Homo sapiens: one gene and its partner. The protein of the gene in region 1 purifies or fractionates together with the protein of each later gene. This does not show direct contact. Each region holds a gene or a part of one and is shown on either strand. Other genes may lie near its edges.

Evidence for each region. Proteins that work in one complex are often made in the same cells at the same time.
Region 2: the proteins of RTRAF (region 1) and NEK10 purify together in Homo sapiens (co-immunoprecipitation; one large-scale study listed by IntAct). This does not show direct contact.

What each region holds. Positions count from the first base shown.
Region 1 is NC_000014.9:52,006,546-52,008,869, forward strand, and holds part of RTRAF (RNA transcription, translation and transport factor protein), read left to right. Parts: coding exon of another isoform or gene 1-115; 3' UTR 116-1,264; coding exon of another isoform or gene 1,265-1,422; 3' UTR 1,423-2,324. Other genes in the region: NID2 (nidogen-2), read right to left, coding at 1-115, 1,265-1,422. UniProt on the Homo sapiens protein: RNA-binding protein involved in modulation of mRNA transcription by Polymerase II. Component of the tRNA-splicing ligase complex and is required for tRNA ligation.
Region 2 is NC_000003.12:27,107,384-27,110,883, reverse strand, and holds part of NEK10 (serine/threonine-protein kinase Nek10), read left to right. Parts: 3' UTR 1-1,229; coding exon of another isoform or gene 1,230-1,236; 3' UTR 1,237-3,500. UniProt on the Homo sapiens protein: Plays a role in the cellular response to UV irradiation. Mediates G2/M cell cycle arrest, MEK autoactivation and ERK1/2-signaling pathway activation in response to UV irradiation.

The sequences.
Region 1 (2,324 bases):
TCTGTGTGGTAGAAGTGATCTGCATAGCTTACGATGCTGAAGGGGTACTTGAGGTTGTTTTGAATGACACGCCGTCCAGTTCCATCAGGTAGTGTACACTCCAGTTTTTTGGTTCCTTTTAAAACAAAGGGGGAAAATGAGGTCCTTCAGCTGCTTTGCCAAAAATGATAGTGACATAGTGATAGTGACACAGTGATAGAATGGGGAAATAGGATATTTTACTTCCATTACAGTCATAGATTAGCAACTGTAAAATTACCTGTCCTATTACTAGTCTCCAGTTTTTAGTAGAGATTCAAACTTTCAATCCTTTTTTGGAAGACAGGATTGCATTTACTGAAATCTGGTAAGTTTCTGCCAAAGTAGGGCATTAAACATAATTATTTTTATAATTTGTGTGATTTCAAGCCTTAGCTTATAAATTATAACATCTGGGTAAATACTTGCCCTTTGTAAGCTATGTCTATAATTACTGAGGCAACCTTTTAACCAAAATCCTTAGTATTTTTAAAATATTTTCTAGGTAGGAGGAAAAAAGTGACTAAAATGGTAACATAACTCATATTTCAATGTAAAGGAATCAGTCTTAAAAATTTTTACAATAGCTAAACCATTCAAGAATTTCCAAGTTTCACATTTCTCATGGAGCCGATTTAAATTTCAAATCCTTTTAAGAAATGTAACTTGTTTTAAACAACTGGGTTATAAAAGTGACCTATGTACATTAGGCCCTTTTATTAGATTACAAATTCAAGAACAGTCTTTTTCATATTCTTTAGTATAGAACTAGACACACAGCATTTTTTCAGTTGTGCTGATAAAAGCAAACAAATGTAGGTTGCTAATACCCATGTTATTACTGAAGGAAGCTACCCTGCTACAATGCTTTCCAAAGAATGTCCTTAGCATTATAACAGATGTTTATAGGTAAGTTATAGTGACCCTCTCCCCGCATAAGAATAACTTCACTTAAGTTTGTCAATTCAACAATGGCTAATTCTTTTAACTGTTAAAAATATGCCAGGCACTCATGGTCAGGCAAGCAGTACAAACTTACTGCTTGATATATCCTTCCCTCCACCCAAACCCCAGAAAGTTCATTTTAAGACTCATTTACTAGTACTTAAATTTACTAGTACTTAAAAGTTTACAGACCAAAGAAAGGAGATCTAAGTGATGGGATTTCATTTTGTAGTAAAATCTGTTAGTGCTCACATTCACTGTGATGAGAGGTTATCTATTTGCATTCCATCAGTAGTATTACCTGCATCTGCCCAGCAGAGCAGTTTAGAGAAAGGGTCAAAGGTTAAGCCATTGGGCAATCCAATGTCTGTATTGATCAGAATTCTTCTGTTTTCTCCATCTAAAGATGACGTTTCAATTTTAGGAGCTTCTCTATTCCAGTCTGTCCAGTACAAGTTGCTGTAAGTTAAAAATCAAGATTGTAAAAGAATAGCCATGTAGCCTGTGGTAGGCAGCATCTAAGCAGCCCCCAGTGATCTCCATCTCCTCATGTATTATAGCCTTAAGCAATCCCCTTGAGTTTGGGCTGCATTAGTAGTGTCTTGCTTCTTCTAGTGCATAGAGTATAGCAGAAGTGATAGGCTATCACTGCCGATATTCGGTCTCAAAAAACTGGTTTCTGCCTTAGGGGCTCTCTCTTGCTCCCTTTGAGGGAAGCTGGATGCCATGTTGCAAGCTACCCTGTAAAGGGGAACATGTGCCAAGGAACTGATGTCCTTGAGGGCTGTTGGCCAGAGACATTAGTCTTGCCTGTAGCCCATGTGAGCATGCTTGGGCTGTGTCTTCCCCGAGCTGAGCCTTGTGATCACTGCAGTTTGGCCATTACCTGATTGCAGCCTTGTGAGAGACTCCATGCCTGAGGGAGCTCGGTGAAGACACACTTGGATTCCTGACTCACAGAAACTGTGAGACTAAATGTTATCTTACACTGCTGAGGGTTTGGGCAATTTCTTACACAGCAGTAGGTAACTAATACACAGCCATATTCCACTTTTACCTGTATCACAAGGTTTTCTGATTATTGTCACTATGTGGGAGAAGTCATTACTAAGTTACTATCAGAATCCCTGCCTCCAAGATACCCCTTGACTCAACTGCCCCAAAACCCTCCGTTTGTTGAAGTCTTGAATTGGATCTTGGGTTTTAGAATAGAAACAAATACAGCTGTTAGGAATGGCTTCGATACAAACTATGGAACTTGAAGAGATGTGGACCAGGGATTTGAGAAGGAAACTGTTCTTTCTTCTGCCAAAAATACAATTTGGTACTTGAAGGGGTACCTGGCACCCAGGGATGGAAAC
Region 2 (3,500 bases), on another chromosome or scaffold:
CTAAAAGTATATTTAAAGACATCTAGCCTTCCATATGTAAAAAATATTTTAGATAAAGACAGTTACAGGACTCAGAATAATATATTGGGTGATTCACTGTATCCTCCATTTTTACATTTAAAGAAATTCAAAATACGTGATTAAATTTTTTTTTTTTTAATGGATGGGTTGGTTCTCGCTTAACCACTTGGGTGCTAGTGGTCTTGAACTGTGATACAGTGTAGACAGTATTTGTAACCTTGCACAGCCTCTGGGGGTAACTGTCAAACTGTCAGATTTAACTTAGACTAATAGAATATATTGCTGTACAGTGTGTGTATATGTTTATATATGAGGGCGGAAGGAGAGAGGTTTTGATTAGACTAATGCTTTGCTGCTAATCAAACTTATAGTATTTTTAGAGCACTTTGAAGAGTTTATAGAATCTATGAAAAAGATGCAATATTCCTCATCCTAAATCCCTCCTTATTACAATTACCTAAATTGTTTATGAATTGTTTAGGATTTTGAAATGAAAATAAGTTAAATCCCTTTTTTACTCATTGAGGCAGCTCAGTGGAAGTGAAATCAGAATGCCAAACTGTGTATCATCCTTTATGCCGGGAGAATTATGATGAAAATCTGCTAGATTCTCACTGGGCTTAAACTCCTTCTCTTCAATCAGCTTCTTAAAACTCTGGTGTAATGTCAAGAAATACCCTTATTGCGAAATCTGTCTACACTTCTAGCTACCTAAAGAGCAATTTATTCTACATAATTAGTAATCTGAAAGTTGAAATTATACTTTTTATTTACTTTTCATGGAGTTCTGTCATCTTTATTTACACTGAATTTTTTTAGTATGATTGAATCGATTTTAGTTCAATGTATTTACAGTGGTTGAAAGACCATAACCTTCTTTCTGTATAGTATGAAAATCTACACTATTTTTAAATGAGCATATTTAATACTTAAATTATATCCAAATTCCCTTTAATCATGCACTAATGCTTTTGAAGATTGTCAATGGATCTTTCTTTAAGCCAAATTAACAATTACAGATACACTGTAATGTAAGATAATAGATGCAAATACAGTAATGAAAATTTCAGTTTCAGCTTTCAAACTAATTCTATCCATATGTGAAATTCATAAAATCAAAATGCTATGATATTGATTTACCCAGGCAAAATTTTATTTCTGTTCCAAGTTAATTTGAACCTGCACTTATAATTCTTTTTATCTTTCAGTGTATGAAAGGGGCACATTTCTTCTTCATGCAGGAAGCACAGACCTGGAGGGGCACAAATTCTAATTGTGGGGTGAGAGTTTGAAATCAAGTTATTTCCCAAATGGTAGTATATAGTAAACAGAATTTAGGAAAGAATAGTATTCAAAAGGTGTACCGTGGTAAGGGAAGATAAATGGTTTACTTGAAGATGTTTTAAAGTGTATATAGTTGGCCTTATTGACCAGAAAGTGAGCAAAATGTTTCCATCTAACTCTTTTTTTTTTTTTTTTTTTTTAAGACAGAGTCTCACTCTGTTGCCCAGGCTTGAGTGCAATGGCGAGATCTTAACTTACTGCAACCTCCGCCACCCAGGTTCAAGCAATTCTCCTGCCTCAGCCTCCCGAGTAACTGGGATTACAGGCATGTGCTGCCATGCCCAGCTAATTTTTGTGTTTTTAGTAGAGATGGGGTTACACCATGTTGGCCAGGCTGGTCTCAAACTCCTGACCTCAGGTGATCTGCCTGCCTCGGCCTCCCAAAGTGCTGGGATTAGAGGCGTGAGCCACTGTGCCCAGCCATTGCATGTAACTCTTTTAGGTGATAGGAATGGGCATTTATTATGCTAGAAGTCAGTGAAAGTTAAGTAAGCAGAAGCTGTCCTTTTTAACAACAGCTTCAGGCCTATCAACTCTATGTGGATAGATGTATTGTTTTGCTAAAAGTATGAATATGCTCTATTTGAATTCTCCCTAAACTACCACAATCACTGAGTCTATATTTTCCCATGTCTCTAAGAGAAAGTCAGGCTCTGGCAAAAGCACCATTTTGTACATAGAGTCACATCCCAACAGAGAAGTTAACTTTTCAGAAGCCTTTCTAACACAAATATGGAGCACCTCCCCTCATGACCAAGAATGATCATTTTGTTTTGATTCTCCAAACTGTCTATTAGTGCAAAGGAGTTGTTACATGAACTTCATAGACCTCTTAATCTTTTCTTGATTGCATTTATATATTTTTTCCCTTTCTCTTGTATAATTTTTAATGATTTGTTGTGCAATGAAATTCCTATGAATGCACCTAATTTCCGTAACTGAATATTTGCATGGAATAGAATATGAATCAGTCTTTTCAGATTACTTTTGAAACACAAATGCTCCCGTTAATTATGTTTCGACCCACCAGCTCTTTCTGAATTATGTGTACTTGAAACCTTAATTTGCTTTTTAAAAGCAAAATGTTTCATTCTCAGGGAAGTGACTGCAGCAGGAATATTTGCTTGCTTGTTAACTTTATCTTCCTCCAGGCATGTAGTCTTCAAATGGAGTCTTCAAGGGAATAGTGACGTGGACACTTGGACCCACTGCTTGTGGATGAATTTCAGAAACCTAGAGAAATGCTGCTTGTTTATTGTGGACACTTGTATGGCATTAGGCAGTGTTTACAGAATGTTTAGGCATTCTAAAGCAGAACACAATTAAGAAACACTGTTAGGAAATTTACTCAAATGATATAATTGATTAAGAGTTAGGTCTTCCTATAAGTATCATCTATGACTCATTAAATACTATGAATTTTGATGTCCAAAAACAAATACAGGTCTGATTATGTACAATTCCAGAAATATCATTAATTAATCACCACTCATTTTTAAGATGTGTGAAGACTGTAATATTGGCTAGTGAATTTTATCAGTATTAATATGCATAGAACCCACATTCCTCTTTTTGATTTGATGTATTATAGCATGTATGTATTGCTATTTTTCTCTTTTTTTGAAGTGGTGAGGAATCATGCACAGTCAATATGCTGGGTTCCTTTAGAAATGACTTTAGCTCCTGTCTGAAGGCAGGAAAAACTTCTTTTTAAGGAACTTTCATCATTGCCTTTTACTTTTTCTATGATGGTTTTCATGAGCACTGAAATCACTTGGAGAGGCAATGCAAAGAAATCTATCTGAAACAGCTTCTTGGCACCCTGGAGTTACAGCTATGAAGGGCTCCAACGTAAGGGAAGCTTAATGCTTCCGAATATTGACATTGACTCCTTGGGTGAAATTTTGTCCAAATATAAAATTCTTCATGTTCAACAACTAAATGTAATAAATGAATTTCATATATACTTACATGATATCTTTGAGATTAAATTAATTATCCTTTTGTAGGAACTGACAGCTTTGGGTAGATTATTTTTTCAGTTGAAATGTGTTGCTAACAATATGCTTACACTTGAACGCTGTTTTTCATATTGATAGGAAGACACAAATTTCTCAGGGAAACAGCTTTGTGAT